5 linked regions of the Homo sapiens genome follow. The gene in region 1 interacts genetically with each later gene. Each region holds a gene or a part of one and is shown in the gene's direction. Other genes may lie near its edges.

Region 1 (3,678 bases):
TGTGGAGTTCATCTCTTCCACTTCCCTTTTTCATTTCTCTTTCCCCTTGGAAGGTTGTTCCCTGGGTGTCAGACCCAAGAGGTGCCTCTCAGTTGCCATGGGAACCAGAACTGAATTTGAAGGCCAAAGCAGGTGTGGCCTCTGATTTTGGGAATGAAACTTCATTCTTTGAGGCTCCTGGTCTTACCAATTTAACTTTCTCCCCTCTCCCTCATCCCTTCCGTTCCCTTCAGGCCTTCCTCCTACAGACAGTAGACGGAAAGCACCAAGACCTCAAGTACATCTCACCAGAAACGGTAAACAGCGTTGCGTCATTTTCTAGGCAGATTTGGGACTGTAGCTCCATTGTTGACCTTCCCTGGGGACAGGCTAGGGCCACCTGCCAGCTGCCAGCCTGACCTGCCGGAACCAACCCCCATGACCTCCTACAGATGGTGGCCCTATTGACGGGCAAGTTCAGCAACATCGTGGATAAGTTTGTGATTGTAGACTGCAGATACCCCTATGAATATGAAGGCGGGCACATCAAGGTAAGATGGGGCAATGGGGAGAGGCCCTGAAGATCCCACCTGGTTTAGGTCCTTGCTTTGCCAAGAGGGTGAATGGGTGGAGGACGGGTGCCCCCTCTCATGGGGAGGGTTCCTACTAAGAGAAGGACAGCGACTGCACGGGGAGGGCCCTGACTCCTGGACCCGGGGCTGTGCCTGACCTCTGGCTCCTCTGACAGACTGCGGTGAACTTGCCCCTGGAACGCGACGCCGAGAGCTTCCTACTGAAGAGCCCCATCGCGCCCTGTAGCCTGGACAAGAGAGTCATCCTCATTTTCCACTGTGAATTCTCATCTGAGCGTGGGCCCCGCATGTGAGTCCCAGCTCCGCCCAGCCAGCTAGTGTCTGCCCTGGCCTTCCCTGCCCAGGCTCACAGGTGCTGGCACCATTGAGATGGCCAGGGGTGCAAGTCCAGGTCCTCCTCTGTCCCATCTGATGGCCTAGAGCTGACCTCAGCCCCACTTCACTGTGCATGGTACCCGCCTCCCATCTCCCTCACTGTCCTGCCTATCAAGCCTCATGTCCACCCCACATCCATTACTGCCACCCTCAGAAAATTTAGTTCCAAGTCTCTAGCGGTGTCTTTTCTCGAAATCTAAGGGCCGCGTGTCAGTCCCCAGTACACGGACCCTCCCCATGTTCAGTGCTGTTAGGTCTCCATTAGAACCTCTTCCATTGGCATCCACAGCACCTGGGCCTCCCTGGCTGAGCTCCTTCTGTCGCTATTCCTGTTCTGCCTGGCCATCTGTCCTCCCACCCCTGCCTCCTCCTGGGTTGCCACTGGTCCATATGACTGCTAGTGGCTCCCCAGCCTGGCCTCACCCATGTGGTGGGAATCTGCACCCAGACGCCCCTTACAGAGTCGCATCCCTGCGGCCCTCCCAACTTCTCCAGGCATCCCAGCATATGGCACCCACCTCCACCTGGGCACCGGGCCTGGGCACTGGCTTCAGTCTTGGGTCCTCCTCCTCCCTTCTCCCCACCACTGATCCTCACCAGGTCTTGTCCAGGAGTGGCCCGAATGGATCCCTTGAATTTGGCCCACTTGTCTCCTCTCCTGCTTCTCCTTTCCTGGTCCAGGCACAGATATCTCTAACAAAGATTGTGCAACTGCCTTCTAGAAACGGAGAGTTCATCCCCTTGATTTTACCTCCTTCCTTCCGCCTCCCCACCCTCTTCTGTAGCCAGAGTGACCTAAAAGTGTTCTTGTGGTTACATTCCTGTGCTCTAAAGCTTTCTGTGGCTCCCCAAGGCCCTCAAAGGAGGGGACGTGGGGGATAGGTCCCATGATGTACAAGCCACTGCATGCCCCACTCTGACCACACCCTGCCCATGACGCCCCAGGTGCCGTTTCATCAGGGAACGAGACCGTGCTGTCAACGACTACCCCAGCCTCTACTACCCTGAGATGTATATCCTGAAAGGCGGCTACAAGGAGTTCTTCCCTCAGCACCCGGTAGCGTGGGTGGGGAAGGCCACAGTCTCTGTGTGAGGGTTGGCTTGGCCAGGCTGGAGCCATGGGATGGGGGGTGGGAGGGTTGGGTCCCTGCCAAACTTACCCATTCCACTGCATTGACCCCTCCTGTCCTGCCCTAGAACTTCTGTGAACCCCAGGACTACCGGCCCATGAACCACGAGGCCTTCAAGGATGAGCTAAAGACCTTCCGCCTCAAGACTCGCAGCTGGGCTGGGGAGCGGAGCCGGCGGGAGCTCTGTAGCCGGCTGCAGGACCAGTGAGGGGCCTGCGCCAGTCCTGCTACCTCCCTTGCCTTTCGAGGCCTGAAGCCAGCTGCCCTATGGGCCTGCCGGGCTGAGGGCCTGCTGGAGGCCTCAGGTGCTGTCCATGGGAAAGATGGTGTGGGTGTCCTGCCTGTCTGCCCCAGCCCAGATTCCCCTGTGTCATCCCATCATTTTCCATATCCTGGTGCCCCCCACCCCTGGAAGAGCCCAGTCTGTTGAGTTAGTTAAGTTGGGTTAATACCAGCTTAAAGGCAGTATTTTGTGTCCTCCAGGAGCTTCTTGTTTCCTTGTTAGGGTTAACCCTTCATCTTCCTGTGTCCTGAAACGCTCCTTTGTGTGTGTGTCAGCTGAGGCTGGGGGAGAGCCGTGGTCCCTGAGGATGGGTCAGAGCTAAACTCCTTCCTGGCCTGAGAGTCAGCTCTCTGCCCTGTGTACTTCCCGGGCCAGGGCTGCCCCTAATCTCTGTAGGAACCGTGGTATGTCTGCCATGTTGCCCCTTTCTCTTTTCCCCTTTCCTGTCCCACCATACGAGCACCTCCAGCCTGAACAGAAGCTCTTACTCTTTCCTATTTCAGTGTTACCTGTGTGCTTGGTCTGTTTGACTTTACGCCCATCTCAGGACACTTCCGTAGACTGTTTAGGTTCCCCTGTCAAATATCAGTTACCCACTCGGTCCCAGTTTTGTTGCCCCAGAAAGGGATGTTATTATCCTTGGGGGCTCCCAGGGCAAGGGTTAAGGCCTGAATCATGAGCCTGCTGGAAGCCCAGCCCCTACTGCTGTGAACCCTGGGGCCTGACTGCTCAGAACTTGCTGCTGTCTTGTTGCGGATGGATGGAAGGTTGGATGGATGGGTGGATGGCCGTGGATGGCCGTGGATGCGCAGTGCCTTGCATACCCAAACCAGGTGGGAGCGTTTTGTTGAGCATGACAGCCTGCAGCAGGAATATATGTGTGCCTATTTGTGTGGACAAAAATATTTACACTTAGGGTTTGGAGCTATTCAAGAGGAAATGTCACAGAAGCAGCTAAACCAAGGACTGAGCACCCTCTGGATTCTGAATCTCAAGATGGGGGCAGGGCTGTGCTTGAAGGCCCTGCTGAGTCATCTGTTAGGGCCTTGGTTCAATAAAGCACTGAGCAAGTTGAGAAACCAGCATTGTGTCCTGTGGGGCCCTGGGCAAGACCCCAGAAGCCCGCCAATGGCGGGATTGGGGTAGGAGACAGGGTCAGCAAAGGCAGGAAGAGTTGCTGGAGAGGTGCCCTCATGCTCTTGTCCCTTCTTCTCCCAATGTCTTCCATCTCTTGGGTGACACTCCTGCCAGGACTTTGGATTCAACCCCTCCTTCCCCTCACCTGGCCTCCCAAGCACTTCTAGGCTTGCCCTTCCTA
Region 2 (2,899 bases), on another chromosome or scaffold:
ACCCTGCCTACACTGCTTCTAAATTTTCTGATTTGTTTGGCTGTTTGGCATCTGAAACAATCCAAGACAAACTTAGAAAGATTAGGCAACACAAAACACAGTAAGACCTGTTCATAGCTTGTTGTCTAGAAAACCAGGTAGCAGGATATTCTAGATGCTTCCTGCTGCTTCTACGTGAGTAGGATTAGCACTGGGGACAAAATAAGGAGTTTAGAGTAAACCAGTATTTCAGTCAAGAGTTAGTTGGCACTTAGTTAATGGCACTGGAAATAGCTTGTGGAGAGAATAGAATACAATGGTATAGACTCCTAATGTTTGATAAAATACTATTTTCAGAGTGGTAGAGAGGTTTTATTTGCCTAAATAGCCGTTATTAAATGGAATAACAACCACATTAGACCAAATTAATTGCAAACACAGCGGCAACCTGGGGAGAAGTTGAAACTCCAGTTTTGTGGATTACAGTTTTGAGTTTTATGATTGACATTTTTAAGTCCCCTATTTAAGGGGTCAAGATTATAACAATGTGTGTCTTACTAAGTTTCTAGGTCATTGTGAGCACTTGATAAATATTTGCTGAATGTTGTTTTTTTGAATGAACATAAGATAGAAACAAAAACTTCTCATCCAGTTAACTAGAGTGAATGTAGGGAGAATTGTTTTGCTTGTAACATGGAGAGTTTATTTTCAAGTGAGGAAAGAGAAAAAAATTACTCAGACTTGTTCCTGGTGAAGTGCATTCTCTGTTTGTATACTTTTTGATGGAGAAATTGATCTATAGAACTGCTTAATTTTTTGAGGCATTTAGACAGCAATGAAAGGTAGTTCTCCACAGGACACCGAATCAAAAGGAGAGACCAGACTCTGGCCTCATACCCAGCCTATTTGAAACAAGCTATCTAGTTTCTCCTGCAGACACCTTGTCAACAACATGCAACAGTGTCAGGTGCCTTGCAGGAAAATAATCTGAGTCCCAAGCTAGCCTGTGCTCATCCACAATCACAATGAACATGTCAAGGAAGAATTTGCAGAGACTCAAGGGAAGCACAATGGGATAAGGTAATCACTTTCAGTGAAAAACTGTTTTCTTGAAAACAGGCTTGGACACAATTGAAAGCTGGCTTCCTGCAAACACACCAAGAGTCTGTAATCTAGCCTATCCATTATATGTCCTTTATTATTCATGATATCCTATTCTTCTACCTTGTTGCCTGGTAACTTTTTCTGAGGACTGAGTTTCTGCAGCGATGTGGTGCACTCTTCCTGTGATGAGGAAACATCTGGGCCCCCTTCTGCAGGCTTTGGAAGATGATGTGTCTTGTCAAGGGGTAAAGGGCAAATGGATTTAATTTCTGCTTAAAACTATCATAGACGTTCCAAATAGAATATGTAAAATTTCTCTGTATTAGAAAAAGAAACGTGATACCAATTGTATATTTTCTTTTCTTTATTTATTCTCTGTAAGTCTGTCAGATGATAAATTGTAAATAACAATGATTAAAGAGTCATGCTACTGATGGATCTCCCTTTCTGTATAAACAGTGCCAGTTCTGGGCTTTGTAACCTTTGCTCTTTATAGTCTTTCATTCCTGGGGAAGTGATGGGGCATGGGCCCAGAGCTGGGGTGTATGTGGTATGGACACCTGTTTGTGGGGCTTTCCAGCAAAGGATTATTTAAATAGACCTCTAACATATGAGTTGACTGTTTATTGGGAAGAAAGCATCTTGGTCTCTGACATATCCAAACATACGAGACACTGGGATTTTACGTCCTCACATTAATTAGTCCAGTTCTGGGGAATCCAGTCTAGAATTAACTGGTGATCCCTTATCGTTATGGTTACAGACTTGTCTTGTTTGATACACAGAAATCCTTTTTAAATCCAAATATAGTCTGTCTCAGACTACCTGCACATGCACAAACCAAAAAAAACTATGAAAACCAGAATTTAGACTCAGTCATTATACTAGAGATTAGAATGAAACGACCCCAAACAACCCATTTCTTACCTGGTCTCTGAGAATAAGTTTATACTTTTAGTTTTCTGAGAATATTTCTCAGAATATGTGAGTTTTCTGAGCACATTTTTCAGCATGGGGTATGGTAGATAAATCACAGGGCCAAGGTTTGGCAGGGATAGATGGGATCATTGTGTACCCTATTGTTCTTCTGATTTCCAGGAGAACAGAATGAGCCCATGCAAAACATAAACTTATGATGATTAAAAAAAACACACCTATCCATTCACTCATCAATAAAAACATATTATGATGGTTATCAAGCTGTGTCCTATGAGTGATAAAATATTTGTAAAATATAAAATTAAATGGCATCTATTTTGAACTCTATTCTAGTCTCTCTGAGCACCTCTAGCAGTTCAGCCCATCTTTCAAAAGTCATAACACCTTGAAAGCAGCAACTTTAGTGCAGAAAAAGGAAGAAGAGAGCAGTTTCATCACTTGGCTTGAATGAAAATCTTGGGGAAAGGAGAGACAGACGGTCTTGCTCTGAAGCTGTCTGGACTTCACTTAATTCAGTCTGTCTTAGGCTGGCGGTCATCCCGAGACTGCGGTAATGCTGAGCCTCCACAGCCCAGGCCCTCTCCCTTCTTTATAGAAATGATTTTTTTATGGGACAGCCACACAACCAGGTCTTCTTCTTATTCCTTATCACCTCTGAGCTCTAGAACATTTTAAAATGAGTCTTTGGGTCTAGACTCTCACAATTAGGCTTAATTTTACTCCATGACTTTCAGAAAATGTTGTTAAATTGTGGTCTCTTTAGAACAGTTGAAAGTGGGATAAGCGTAGGAGCTGAGTTCCACCCCCATGATAAAGAAATTTTATTGGCCGGGCGCGGTGGCTCATGCCGGTAATCCCAACACTTTGGGAGGCCGAG
Region 3 (3,678 bases), on another chromosome or scaffold:
TTGGAAAATAGTTTAAAAATTATTTCCTTCTAACTGAGACGTTTACCCTCTTGTCTCCCTTCAGTCTGCGGGCCAGGCATCGACATCCGCAACGACTATCAGCAGCTGAAGCGCCTGGAGAACTGCACGGTGATCGAGGGCTACCTCCACATCCTGCTCATCTCCAAGGCCGAGGACTACCGCAGCTACCGCTTCCCCAAGCTCACGGTCATTACCGAGTACTTGCTGCTGTTCCGAGTGGCTGGCCTCGAGAGCCTCGGAGACCTCTTCCCCAACCTCACGGTCATCCGCGGCTGGAAACTCTTCTACAACTACGCCCTGGTCATCTTCGAGATGACCAATCTCAAGGATATTGGGCTTTACAACCTGAGGAACATTACTCGGGGGGCCATCAGGATTGAGAAAAATGCTGACCTCTGTTACCTCTCCACTGTGGACTGGTCCCTGATCCTGGATGCGGTGTCCAATAACTACATTGTGGGGAATAAGCCCCCAAAGGAATGTGGGGACCTGTGTCCAGGGACCATGGAGGAGAAGCCGATGTGTGAGAAGACCACCATCAACAATGAGTACAACTACCGCTGCTGGACCACAAACCGCTGCCAGAAAAGTAAGAATGATGCTGACTGCTGCTTTCTCTCTGCCTCTCTCTCTCCTCTCCTCCTCCTTGACCTCCCTTCTCTTCTGAGTGCACGAGTTCCGCTGGGCAGGGTGCAGTCGTGTTGCATTTAGGACGTGGCATGCCTGCTGTGCGGAAGTGGTTCCCAGTGGGGGTCTTGGTTGGCTTTCCTTTGCATCTGGGACTCTTGGATTGCGGGACTGTGGCGTGGCTGGAGGCCATCATGGCTGCTGTCAAGACTGTTCAAATCACATGTTAGAAATAATCCAGCACACTCCTGGGCTAGACACTTGCTGACCTTCAGCTTTGAATTCCTGATGAGAAAGGTGACCTGGTGTGCTTGGAAGTCCCTGAGCCTTGGCAGCTGGGGGCTGCTTATGTGTCAGCTCTTTCATCCTTTGTGCGAAGTGATATTTTTTGTTCTGCAGGACTTCCTTAGTTTGAATGGACTTGGAATATGGTTAAATAAAGGGAAGGTAAAGCACTAACTCATATCCTGTGAAAGTGGTCCTTAGGTCCTAGTGATGATGTTATGATACTCAGGTGTCCTGGTTATGACAGAGCACCTGGCCCAGGTGGGAGACCTCTGGACCCATTTCTGCAAGTCCCAGGTTCAGGCTGTACTTGCAGGTAGCTGTGTAGCAGGGTGCATTTTTAAACCTCTGGGATTCTGTTTTCGTTCTTTTATACCTGTTTACTGAACAGTTGTGAAAATCTTAAGATTTCACGAGTGAAGGAACTTTGGAAAGTATTTACTGTTCTGGGGGTCAGATGGTGGTATTTTGAAGCTTCTTGTATATTTATCTGCAATATGCTTATTTTCCCTTGAGAATAACTGAGCTCTTGCCTTCATGTGATCAGTTCCTTAAGAACCAGGCTGTTTGGTATTAAAATGTGACTCTGAGCCTTCACCTTATTGCATTCAGCAATAGTTATGTATATTGGCTAGGAAGCTTTTCCTCACTGGTTTGAAGTCAGTGTGTTAGCTATAAATAGCTATTATTTAAGTGTTGGCCCAGTTAAAGATGTAAGGAACCCATGTTCTCTAGTTATGAAGAACCAAGAAACCCCAAATTGTTAGACTTGCCTAAAATAAATAAAAGGCGAGACCCCACAGGGGTGAAGTGTGTAAAGTAAATAAAGGACAGACCTCCCAGGTAGCCCTTCAGTTCCCGTTCAACCAGTCCTGAGGCAGGAAAAGGATCTGTGTACCCTGATCTGCCACGCACTTTTCTATTCTGCAGAATTGGATCAGTGCGTATGTGAACATTGATTAGTGAGGGCAGGGGTCCCACTGGCTGCAGCCAGTACCTTGTAGAGCTCTGAGAATGCAGTCAGGCCACTTTAAGGTTGGCTGGAGTTGGAGGGAGATCTTATGCTAAAGTCACTTGTGTGGTTGATTAAAACTGCCCTATCATTAAGTTACCCACTGGTTTGAGAAAACAACAAAATATATTTTTTAAATAACCTTGACATTTAAAAATTTTATCTGAAAAGTAAAAGGTGTTATCAAGGGAGGCAGCATGGAGTAGAAAAGAGATGTTGAATGTGGTGATGAGGGCCAGGAATGACCTTGGATGGGCCAGCCCTTCTGGGCTGTAGTTGGGCTTTTTTAGGATATTTCTAGGGCAGTCCAGTACATCCCTTAGTGGTGATCATATATGGGCATGAGGATGTTTTGAAAACTCATAAGCTCTTTAGAGAAGGGAGGTGCCATATGAAACGTCATTAAGTGGAGAGTTGTTCACGAACTAGGTAGGTAGTTACTTTGGTCTTGCCATAGGTTTTTGGCTGTTTCTGATGAGCTACTGATTGAAGACCCCTGGGGTAGGGGTGAGGCCTGCATTCTGGGTCCAAGTCTAAGAGTGGCGACTAGAAATGAGCAAGTTATTTAAATTGCCTGGGCCTTGGTTTCTTCATATGTGGAATGGGGTAAAGCCTGCCTTCCTCATAGGGCTGTTGGAAGATGAAAAGGAGGAAGGAAAAGCACCGTGAAAATGTTAACGATGGTTAGAAGGTGGGCTCTGCTGGTGACAGACAGAGCCTTGATATCACCTGTTGGTTGGTCACCTGCTTCCCCAAGGCCACGCCCTGCAGCCTTCTCCTTGACCATCCCAGCCCTGCTGATGTTCCTTGTGATTTCACAATGGAGTACTTATATAAAATTGGTAACTGCTTTCCGGGAAATTGACTTCCCTTCCCCTTGTCCTGAAAACTCAGGCATGGGCATATTTCTTGGAGATTTTCTAGTTGAATCAGAACTTCCTCTTGGTTTGCGTAGATTCCATTTAGACCTGCATTGTCCAGTGTGGTAGCCGCTTATTGAGTAAGCCACGTGGCTTATTGAGTACTTGAACTGTGGCTTGTCCGAATTGGGACTGCTTTAGGTGTAAAATATACACTAGATTTCCAAGACATAGTATAGCAAAAACTCTGTACACCATTTCATTAATAATTACTATGTTGATAACATGTTGAAATATAACATTTTGGATATATTAGATTAAGTAAAATGTGTTCTTAAATTTCACCTGCCTGTTTCCTTTTTATTCTTTTTTTTTTTTTTTGAGGCGGAGTTTCGCTCTCATCACCCAGGCTGGAGTGCAGCGGCGCGATCTCGGCTCACTGCAACCTCCGTCTCCTGGGTTCAAGCGATTCTCTTGCCTCAGCCTCCCAAGTAGCTGGAATTACAAGCATGTGCCACCATGCCCGTCTAATTTTTGTATTTTAACTGGAGACGGGGTTTCACCACCATGTTGGCCAGGCTGGTCTCAAACTCCTGACCTCAGATGATCCGCCCGCCTCAGCCTCCCAAAGTGTTAGGATTACAGGTGTGAGCCACCATGCCCGACTCTTTTTAATTCTTAATGTGGCTACTTGAAAATTTAAAATTACAGATGTGGCTTGCATTCTGTGTTGGTAAGCTGCTTTAGAGCATTTCTTTTAACACCAGGAGTTCTTCCCCTCATCATCTTTTTGGCTGAGTCGTCACTGCAGCGCTCATAGCCCCGCATGTACCTCTCCAGCCAGAACCCTTAGGAATCATTTGGGGAGCTCCA
Region 4 (3,678 bases), on another chromosome or scaffold:
CAGAGACTGGATATGGGCCAGGAGTTTCCCTCTGGGCATGTGGTGGCCGCATTTGACCCTGCAGGACTTCCCTCTGGATGCTTGTATTCTTGGCCACCCCAGAAGTTACAGGTATCAGGTTGCCTAAGTCTTTAGTAAATGTGATTTCTCCTGGTGTGGGGAGAATCCTGCCCAGCATTACTGGTTGTTGTAGGAACCCACTGAATCCTGGATTAAGGGGATTCCACCTGTGTGTTGGCCCTTCTAGTCAGACGGAAGAGCAGAACAGGGCTAAACTGGGGTGTCTGTGGGAAACGGCTCTACCCCAGCCTTATATAGTCAAACACAGGGGCTGTTCTTTCCCTTCCTTCTTCTTCCTGGAGTCATGCCTTCTGGAGTTCTCTGTCCCCAGCTACAATCTGTGCCTGTAGCACAGCCATTGCCCTTCTCTCTCCTGGGTTGAATGTTCTGCCTGTGGATCCCACATCATCCTCTCTTTGACTTACTGATTTGTTTCATTGAAGCACATCCTCCAGTAACTTCCTGAGAAAGGTGCTTGGGGAGGTAAATTGTGTGAGACCTTGCACATCTGAAATGTCTTTTTTTAATCCTCACATTTGATGGTTGGGTATAGAATTTCTAGGTGGAAAGTGCTTTTCCCTTAGAACTTCTACAACATCACTCTGATGTCTTATGGCTTCTAGTGTGGCTGTGGAGAAGTCTCATGTCATTCTGATTTGCTGATCTTCCTAAAAGCTTCATCTCTTAGAGGGAGCTGAGAGTTTCTCATGCCCCTTCCGCTTGGGAGGCCTTTAGGGTCTTCAAGGTGATGTGGTTTGTGGTGGGTCTTCTCTCCACCATACATGGTCCTAGGGGGCCCCTTTTCATCATAACACTCTTGTTCTCCAGGTCAGGGAAATTGTCATGTATTATTTCTTTGACAAATCACCTCTGCCCCTTTCTGGCAACTCACTCCATCCCTACTCCCATTTTCTGAGCTGCTTTTTCTAGAACTTCTGGTGGCTACATGCTAGCTTGATTCTGAGATTCTGATTTTATCTTTTTTCTCTTAATTTTCTTTCTTTCTTTTTTTTTTTTTTTGAGATGGAGTCTCGCTCTGTCACCCAGGCTGGAGTGCAGTGGCGTGATCTCGGCTCACTACAAGCTCCTCCTCCTGGGTTCACGCCACTCTCCTGCCTCAGCGTCCTGAGTAGCTGGGACTACAAGCCCCCGCCACTGTGCCCGGCTAATTTTTTGTATTTTTAGTAGAGATGGGGTTTCACCATGGTCTCGATCTCCTGACCTCGTGATCCGCCTGCCTCTGCCTCCCACAGTGCTGGGATTACAGGCGTGAGCCACCACGCCCAGCCTTTCTCTTTATTTTCTCTGTTTTTTTTGGTTGTTTGTTTTGAGAAAGACTTCTTCAACATTATCTTACAAGTATATGAGTGTTGTTGTTTTTTATTTCCTTGAGACATGGTCCTGCTCTGTTGCCCAGGCTGGAGTGTAGTGTCTCAATCATAGCTCACTGCAGCCTGTCTCCTAGGCTTAAGTGATCCTCACACCTCAGCCTCCTGAGTAGCTGGGACTACAGGCACGTGCCACCATGCTTGGCTAATTCTTGTATTTTTCACAGAGACAGGGTTTCACCTTGTTGAGCAGGCTTGTCTCAAGCTCCTGGCCTCAAGCAATTTGCCTGCCCCAGCCTCCGAAAGTGTTAGGATTACAGGCATAAGCCACTGCACCCGGCCCAAATTTCTTTTTTTGTTTGTTTGTTTGATTTAGTTTCTGTTTTTCTTGTTAAAGGTTTTGCTGGAGTGTCCAGTGAGCCCTGGCTGGATGCCCTTTTTAAAAAAGTGATGCTGGGCTGACATGGTGGCTCATGCCTGTAATCCCAGCACTTTGGGAGTCTGAGGCAGGAGGACTGCTTGAGCCCAAGAGTTTGAGACCAGCTTACATAGCGAGACTCTGTGTCTACAGAAAAATTTTTAAATTAGCCAGGTGTGGGCCAGGTGCGGTGGCTCACACCTGTAATCCCAGCACTTTGGGAGGCTGAGGCGGGTGGATCACGAGGTCAGGAGATCAAGACCATCCTGGCTAATATAGTGAAACTCCATCTCTACTAAAAAAATACAAAAAATTAGCTGGGCGTTGTGGCAGGCGCTTGTAGTCCCAGCTACTCGGGAGGCTGAGGCAGGGGAATGGCCTGAACCCAGGAGGCAGATGGGAGACTGAGGCAGGAGAATGGCGTGAACCTGGGAGACAGAGCTTGCAGCGAGCTGAGATCGCGCCACTGCACTCCAGCCTGGGTGACAGAGCAAGACTCCGTCTCAAAAAAAAAAAAAAAATTAGCCAGATGTGGTTGGGCACAGTGGCTCACCCCTGTAATCCCAGCACTTTGGGAGGCCAAGGCTGGCAGATCATGAGGTCAGGAGTTCGAGACCAGCCTGCCCAACATGGTGAAACCTCGTCTCTACTAAAAATACAAAAATTAGCCAGGCGTGGTGGCACAAGTAGCTGTAATCCCAGCTACTCAGGAGGCTGAGGCAGGAGAATCGCTTGAACCCAGTAGGCGGAGGTTGCAGTGAGCCGAGATCACGCCACTGCACTGCAGCCTGGGCGACAGAGCAAGACTCTGTCTCAAAAAAAAAAAAAAAATTAGCCAGGTATGGTGGTACATGCCTGTAATCCCAGCTACTTGGGAGGCTGAGGCGAAAGAATAACTTAAGCCCAGGAGGTTGAGGCTGCAGTGAGCTATGATTGCTCCACTACGCTCCAGCCTGGGCGACAGAGTGAGACCCTGTCTCAAAAAAATTTTTTTTAAATAAAAACAAAAAAATGATGCTGTAACCGAGGTGTGGTGCACACTTGTAGTCCCAGCTACTCAGGAGGCTACTCAGAGGATGCTTGTGCAGGCCCCAGGTACTTCTCAAAGAGCTCCAGATGGGTCAGTGCCTGGCTGGATGGGGTTGGGAAGGGGGCCTGGGCCTCCAGCTCTTCTTTATCAGCCAGCTAGTCCTCCCATTTCGTCCCCACCTTTGTCCCTTTTCTTAGCAATGCCACTGCACCCTCTGGAGTGCTCTGGTCCTGCACAGGTGGTGTGCTCTGGTTGGCCAGCACCTGTGTTTGGTTTCCTACATGACTCTGAGTCCGTCACCGTGGATCTCTCTGACAGAATTGTGTTGATGTCTCCATCTCCTGTTGTCTCCTTTTTCTCCTGTCATCTCTTTTTCTCTTTATCCTTCTGTTCCCATTTTACTGGGGTGTCAGGATGGAGTAGAAATAAACATAGGTTCAGTTTACTAGGTTTAACTGGTTTCACTGCAATTCCTGTTGGTCAAACACAAACTGAGTGCCCACTGTGTGCAGAGCAGCACTGAGTAGGTTCTTCTGTGCCACGGGTCTGCTCCCCTGCTGGGAGCACAGGCATCCTCTCCTTCTAACTTCCTTGGGGCATTCTCTCCAAGGAAGGGGAGGGCCAGCCCAGCCGTTGCAAGTCTGGAGGAGACTGGCCAGGCAGGTGGACCTGGCAGCAGCTGGTCCTTATGAGAAATCCAGTCCCCAGAGAGCCTGTGCTGCGGCCCTCACTGCCCACTTCAGGGCCCACTCTGGCCCCTTCCTTCCCCAGGGCCAGAGGCTGAGTTAACCCTAGTTTGGTCCTAGGTTTTTGATGCCACAAACACCACCCGAGAACGGAGA
Region 5 (4,132 bases), on another chromosome or scaffold:
GTAATCCCAGCACTTTGGGAGGCCAAGGCGGGCAGATCACGAGGTCACGAGATCGAGACTATCCTGGCCAACATGGTGAAACCCTGTCTCTACTAAAAATACAAAAATTAGCTGGACATGGTGGTGCGTGCCTGTAATCCCAGCTACTCGGGAGGCTGAGGCAGGAGAATCGCTTGAACCAGGGAGTCAGAGGTTGCAGTGAGCCAAGATGGCACCACTGCACTCTAGCCTGGTGACAGAGCGACACTCGGTCTCAAAAAATAAATAAATAAAATAATAATAATAAATATTTCAGGGGAGAATTAGATGAGATGATTGTAAAATGCATAGCCCTAGCTGTGCCCCAGCACATAGTAGGTGCTTGATAAGAAATTTGTTACCTCCTTAATAATGGGTATTTGTTCAGCCTGTGAACCAATGTGTTTTTTTTTTTTAAGTAAAATCCACGGCTAGGCATGGTGGCTCACGCCTATAATCCCAGCACTTTGGGAGGCCGAGGCGGGCAAATCACCTGAGGTAAGGAGTTCGAGACTAGCCTGGCTGACATGGTGAAACCCCGTCTCTACTAAAAATACAAAAATTAGCCAGGTGTGGTGGCAGGCGCCTGTAATCCCAGCTACTCAGGAGGCTGAGGCAGGAGAATAGCTTGAACCCAGGAGGCGGAGGTTGCAGTGAGCTGCGATCGTGCCACTGCACTCCAGCCTGGGGGAGAAGAGCGAGACTCCGTCTCAAAAAAAAAAAAAAAAAAATCCACATAGCAAAATTTACCATTGTTACTGTTTTCAATGTGTTTTTTAAAAATTCAGGTAAGTTTTGTATACTTTCTGATTCTTAAGTTGGAAAACAAGGTAACCTCTAATATGGGCTGTGAGGCCTTCCTCTGCCCAAGCAGTTGCAGATATGAACCCTGAATATAAAGAGATCTTAGGCTAGAAAGGATCTTGGGCAGAGCTGAATGGCTCTAAGCATTTGACCTCACATTGGTTTCCTCCTGAGAAGAGTCAACAGAGTCCAGCATCTTCTTCCAAGGTCAGGGAAGGGCAAAGATTTGAAATTAGGCATCACTGGGTTCTCAGCTGGGCCTCCAAGTTCCCCTCCTCTCACTATGCAGAGCAAAGAGGAGGTTGCAGAAGAGAAGAGGATATGAGATTGGTTCTCTGCTCCTCCCTTTCTTTCCCTGCTTTCCCCACACCCACCCTCTCCCCCACAGCAGCCTTCTCCCCCACAGAGGCTGGGATAGGATGAGGGGGGCGGAGTTGGGGACTGAGGGATCAGAAGCCCCAGGATGCCCTGTATCTGAAGAAAGATTTGGCCAGGGGCAGCTGTGCTGGCTTATGCTCTTCTCCTTCTGCTGCTGCCATCCTCCAGCAAGATGCTAGGGTCTTTGGGGCTTTGGGCATTACTTCCCACAGCTGTGGAAGGTAAGTGTCTACAGGGAGGGGAAGGGTCTCTCCATCCATCCAGCAAGGGAAAGGGGCGCTTGAAGCAAGAGCCACCCCTTTGGAAGAGTGGTGAGTGGGCTGGGTGAGTAAGGGTGAAGGATAGAGCCATGTGTCCCCATGGCAGGGCTCAGGTTCCAGGCCTCTGCTGACCCTGCTTCCTCCTGTGGCTTTACCATACTGACGCTGGGATGTGGAACATGTTTTGTCTATTCTTTTGGCCAGTTTTTTGCCTCTGCATTCACTCCCACCTTGAATCTTTTCCTTTCCCCACCCTGGGCCTCAGCACCCCCAAACAGGCGAACCTGTGTGTTCTTTGAGGCCCCTGGAGTGCGGGGAAGCACAAAGACACTGGGAGAGCTGCTAGATACAGGCACAGAGCTCCCCAGAGCTATCCGCTGCCTCTACAGCCGCTGCTGCTTTGGGATCTGGAACCTGACCCAAGACCGGGCACAGGTGGAAATGCAAGGTGAATGGCAAAGTATATGGCAGGTGATGGCTAGGGTGGGAGACAGACACATCCTGGGGTGTGGGTGGCAACCAAGGGGGAAGGGGAGAAATAGAACATCTGGTGGGAAAGAAAAGCCCATGAGAGCTGGAAGGGACGCCTCTGATAGAGAAGGGATTTACCCTCTGTTTCCACACCCCATTGTGCTTTCTTCCTTGCCCCCCCTTTCTCTCCTCTTCCCCTAATCCCATCCCATCAGGATGCCGAGACAGTGATGAGCCAGGCTGTGAGTCCCTCCACTGTGACCCAAGTCCCCGAGCCCACCCCAGCCCTGGCTCCACTCTCTTCACCTGCTCCTGTGGCACTGACTTCTGCAATGCCAATTACAGCCATCTGCCTCCTCCAGGGAGCCCTGGGACTCCTGGCTCCCAGGGTCCCCAGGCTGCCCCAGGTAGCCACCCAAGGGTACTGAAGCCTGATGGGGGCTGGGGCCCAGGTTAGGATGAGAGGTGGAACCAGGGCCAGTTCTCACCCTACTCCCGCCCCACGCTTTCCTCCTCCTGGCCTTGGGAAGTTGGTTGCCCTGGTGACTGGGAGATAAGGGGTCTTGTGACCAGGGTGGGGGTGGGTTGAGACGCAAGCTCTCAGGAGGGGAAGAGCAGAGAGCAGGTTTGGGTCAGTGCTCTCCAGCCTGCATTCTTGCCTTGATGTCCAGGTGAGTCCATCTGGATGGCACTGGTGCTGCTGGGGCTGTTCCTCCTCCTCCTGCTGCTGCTGGGCAGCATCATCTTGGGTACTAATCCACCCCATCCCTCCCTTGTGACCCCAAGACATTGCCCCAAAAGCTCTGACCCCTCTCCAGGCACCCCTGACCCCATGGTCTTGGGATCTCTATAGCCTGATTCCCGGACTCCCATGACCTCTCACAAAGCTCCCTTTCCACGAAGTCCCTTTTCCTGTCCCTATGCATTTGCACCCTGACCCTAAGGCTCTTGTCTGTTCCAGCCCTGCTACAGCGAAAGAACTACAGAGTGCGAGGTGAGCCAGTGCCAGAGCCAAGGCCAGACTCAGGCAGGGACTGGAGTGTGGAGCTGCAGGAGCTGCCTGAGCTGTGTTTCTCCCAGGTGCCCCAGGGAGGGAGAGAAGGGCTCCTCTGGGCACTCCTGGAGGTTGTGCTGGGGAGGAATCCTGGCCCTGTTATAGCTCAGAGGCCCACACTCAGCACAGTGTCCCCAGCAGGTAATCCGGGAAGGAGGTCATGCAGTGGTTTGGGCCGGGCAGCTGCAAGGAAAACTGGTTGCCATCAAGGCCTTCCCACCGAGGTCTGTGGCTCAGTTCCAAGCTGAGAGAGCATTGTACGAACTTCCAGGCCTACAGCACGACCACATTGTCCGATTTATCACTGCCAGCCGGGGGGGTCCTGGCCGCCTGCTCTCTGGGCCCCTGCTGGTACTGGAACTGCATCCCAAGGTGAGCACCAAGGAGTGTATATGTGTGTGTGTGTGCCTGTGTGTATGTATAGAGGTGGGGGCTACATGGCAGCTGGGCCCTGTTGATTGCTTCTGCTTTCGATTTTCTCTTTTCTAAAACATTAAAAATGGCCAGGCGAGGTGGCCCACACCTGTAATCCCAGGACTTTGGGAGGCCAAGGTGGGTGGATCGCTTAAGCCCAGGAGCTCAAGACCAGCCTAGGCAATATGAGGAAACCCCATCACTGCAAAATTACAAAAATTAGCTCAGCATGGCAGTGCACACCTGTAGTCCCAGCTACTCAGGAGGCTGAGGTGGAAAGATCGCTTGAGCTTAGGAGGTTGAGGCTGCAGTGAGCCGTGAGCATCCCACTGCACTCCAGCCTGGGAGACAGAGCGAGACCATGTGAAAAAATAGTAACAGGCTGGGCACGGTGGCAGACGCCTGTAATCCCAGCACTTTGGGAGGCCAAGGTGTGAGGATCACTTGAACCCAGGAATTCAAGAACAGCCTGGGCAACACCGTGAAACCCCACCTCTACAAAAAACAAAAAATTGGCTGGGTGTGATGGCACATGCCTGTGGTCCCAGCTACTTGGGAGGCTGAAGTGGAAGGAGCACCTGAGCCTGGGGAGGTCAAGGCTGGCAGTGAGCCAAGATTGTGCCACTGCACTCCAGCCTAGGTGACAGAGTAAGACCCTGTCTCAAAATAATAATTTTTATTTATCTTTTTTATTACATAAACAATACATGTTTATATATTTTTATTTTATTTT

What was found.
Region 2: changes in CDC25B (region 1) and DDR2 together harm fitness more than expected from each alone (negative genetic interaction), as found in Homo sapiens cells (one large-scale study listed by BioGRID).
Region 3: changes in CDC25B (region 1) and IGF1R together harm fitness less than expected from each alone (positive genetic interaction), as found in Homo sapiens cells (one large-scale study listed by BioGRID).
Region 4: changes in CDC25B (region 1) and PFKFB4 together harm fitness more than expected from each alone (negative genetic interaction), as found in Homo sapiens cells (one large-scale study listed by BioGRID).
Region 5: changes in CDC25B (region 1) and AMHR2 together harm fitness more than expected from each alone (negative genetic interaction), as found in Homo sapiens cells (one large-scale study listed by BioGRID).

The regions. Positions count from the first base shown.
Region 1 is NC_000020.11:3,802,677-3,806,354, forward strand, and holds the end of CDC25B (M-phase inducer phosphatase 2), read left to right. Parts: intron 1-53; exon of another isoform or gene 54-132; intron 133-233; coding exon 234-296; intron 297-431; coding exon 432-530; intron 531-727; coding exon 728-861; intron 862-1,892; coding exon 1,893-2,004; intron 2,005-2,144; coding exon 2,145-2,285; 3' UTR 2,286-3,439; downstream 3,440-3,678. UniProt on the Homo sapiens protein: Tyrosine protein phosphatase which functions as a dosage-dependent inducer of mitotic progression. Directly dephosphorylates CDK1 and stimulates its kinase activity.
Region 2 is NC_000001.11:162,785,057-162,787,955, forward strand, and holds the end of DDR2 (discoidin domain-containing receptor 2 precursor), read left to right. Parts: 3' UTR 1-2,349; downstream 2,350-2,899. UniProt on the Homo sapiens protein: Tyrosine kinase involved in the regulation of tissues remodeling. It functions as a cell surface receptor for fibrillar collagen and regulates cell differentiation, remodeling of the extracellular matrix, cell migration and cell proliferation.
Region 3 is NC_000015.10:98,707,498-98,711,175, forward strand, and holds part of IGF1R (insulin-like growth factor 1 receptor isoform 1 precursor), read left to right. Parts: intron 1-64; coding exon 65-610; intron 611-3,678. UniProt on the Homo sapiens protein: Receptor tyrosine kinase which mediates actions of insulin-like growth factor 1 (IGF1). Binds IGF1 with high affinity and IGF2 and insulin (INS) with a lower affinity. The activated IGF1R is involved in cell growth and survival control.
Region 4 is NC_000003.12:48,539,736-48,543,413, reverse strand, and holds part of PFKFB4 (6-phosphofructo-2-kinase/fructose-2,6-bisphosphatase 4), read left to right. Parts: intron 1-3,642; coding exon 3,643-3,678. UniProt on the Homo sapiens protein: Synthesis and degradation of fructose 2,6-bisphosphate.
Region 5 is NC_000012.12:53,422,563-53,426,694, forward strand, and holds the start of AMHR2 (anti-Muellerian hormone type-2 receptor isoform 1 precursor), read left to right. Parts: upstream 1-1,292; 5' UTR 1,293-1,372; coding exon 1,373-1,421; intron 1,422-1,725; coding exon 1,726-1,908; intron 1,909-2,146; coding exon 2,147-2,338; intron 2,339-2,523; exon of another isoform or gene 2,524-2,594; coding exon of another isoform or gene 2,595-2,602; coding exon 2,603-2,680; intron 2,681-2,892; coding exon 2,893-3,011; intron 3,012-3,123; coding exon of another isoform or gene 3,124-3,126; coding exon 3,127-3,357; intron 3,358-4,132. UniProt on the Homo sapiens protein: On ligand binding, forms a receptor complex consisting of two type II and two type I transmembrane serine/threonine kinases.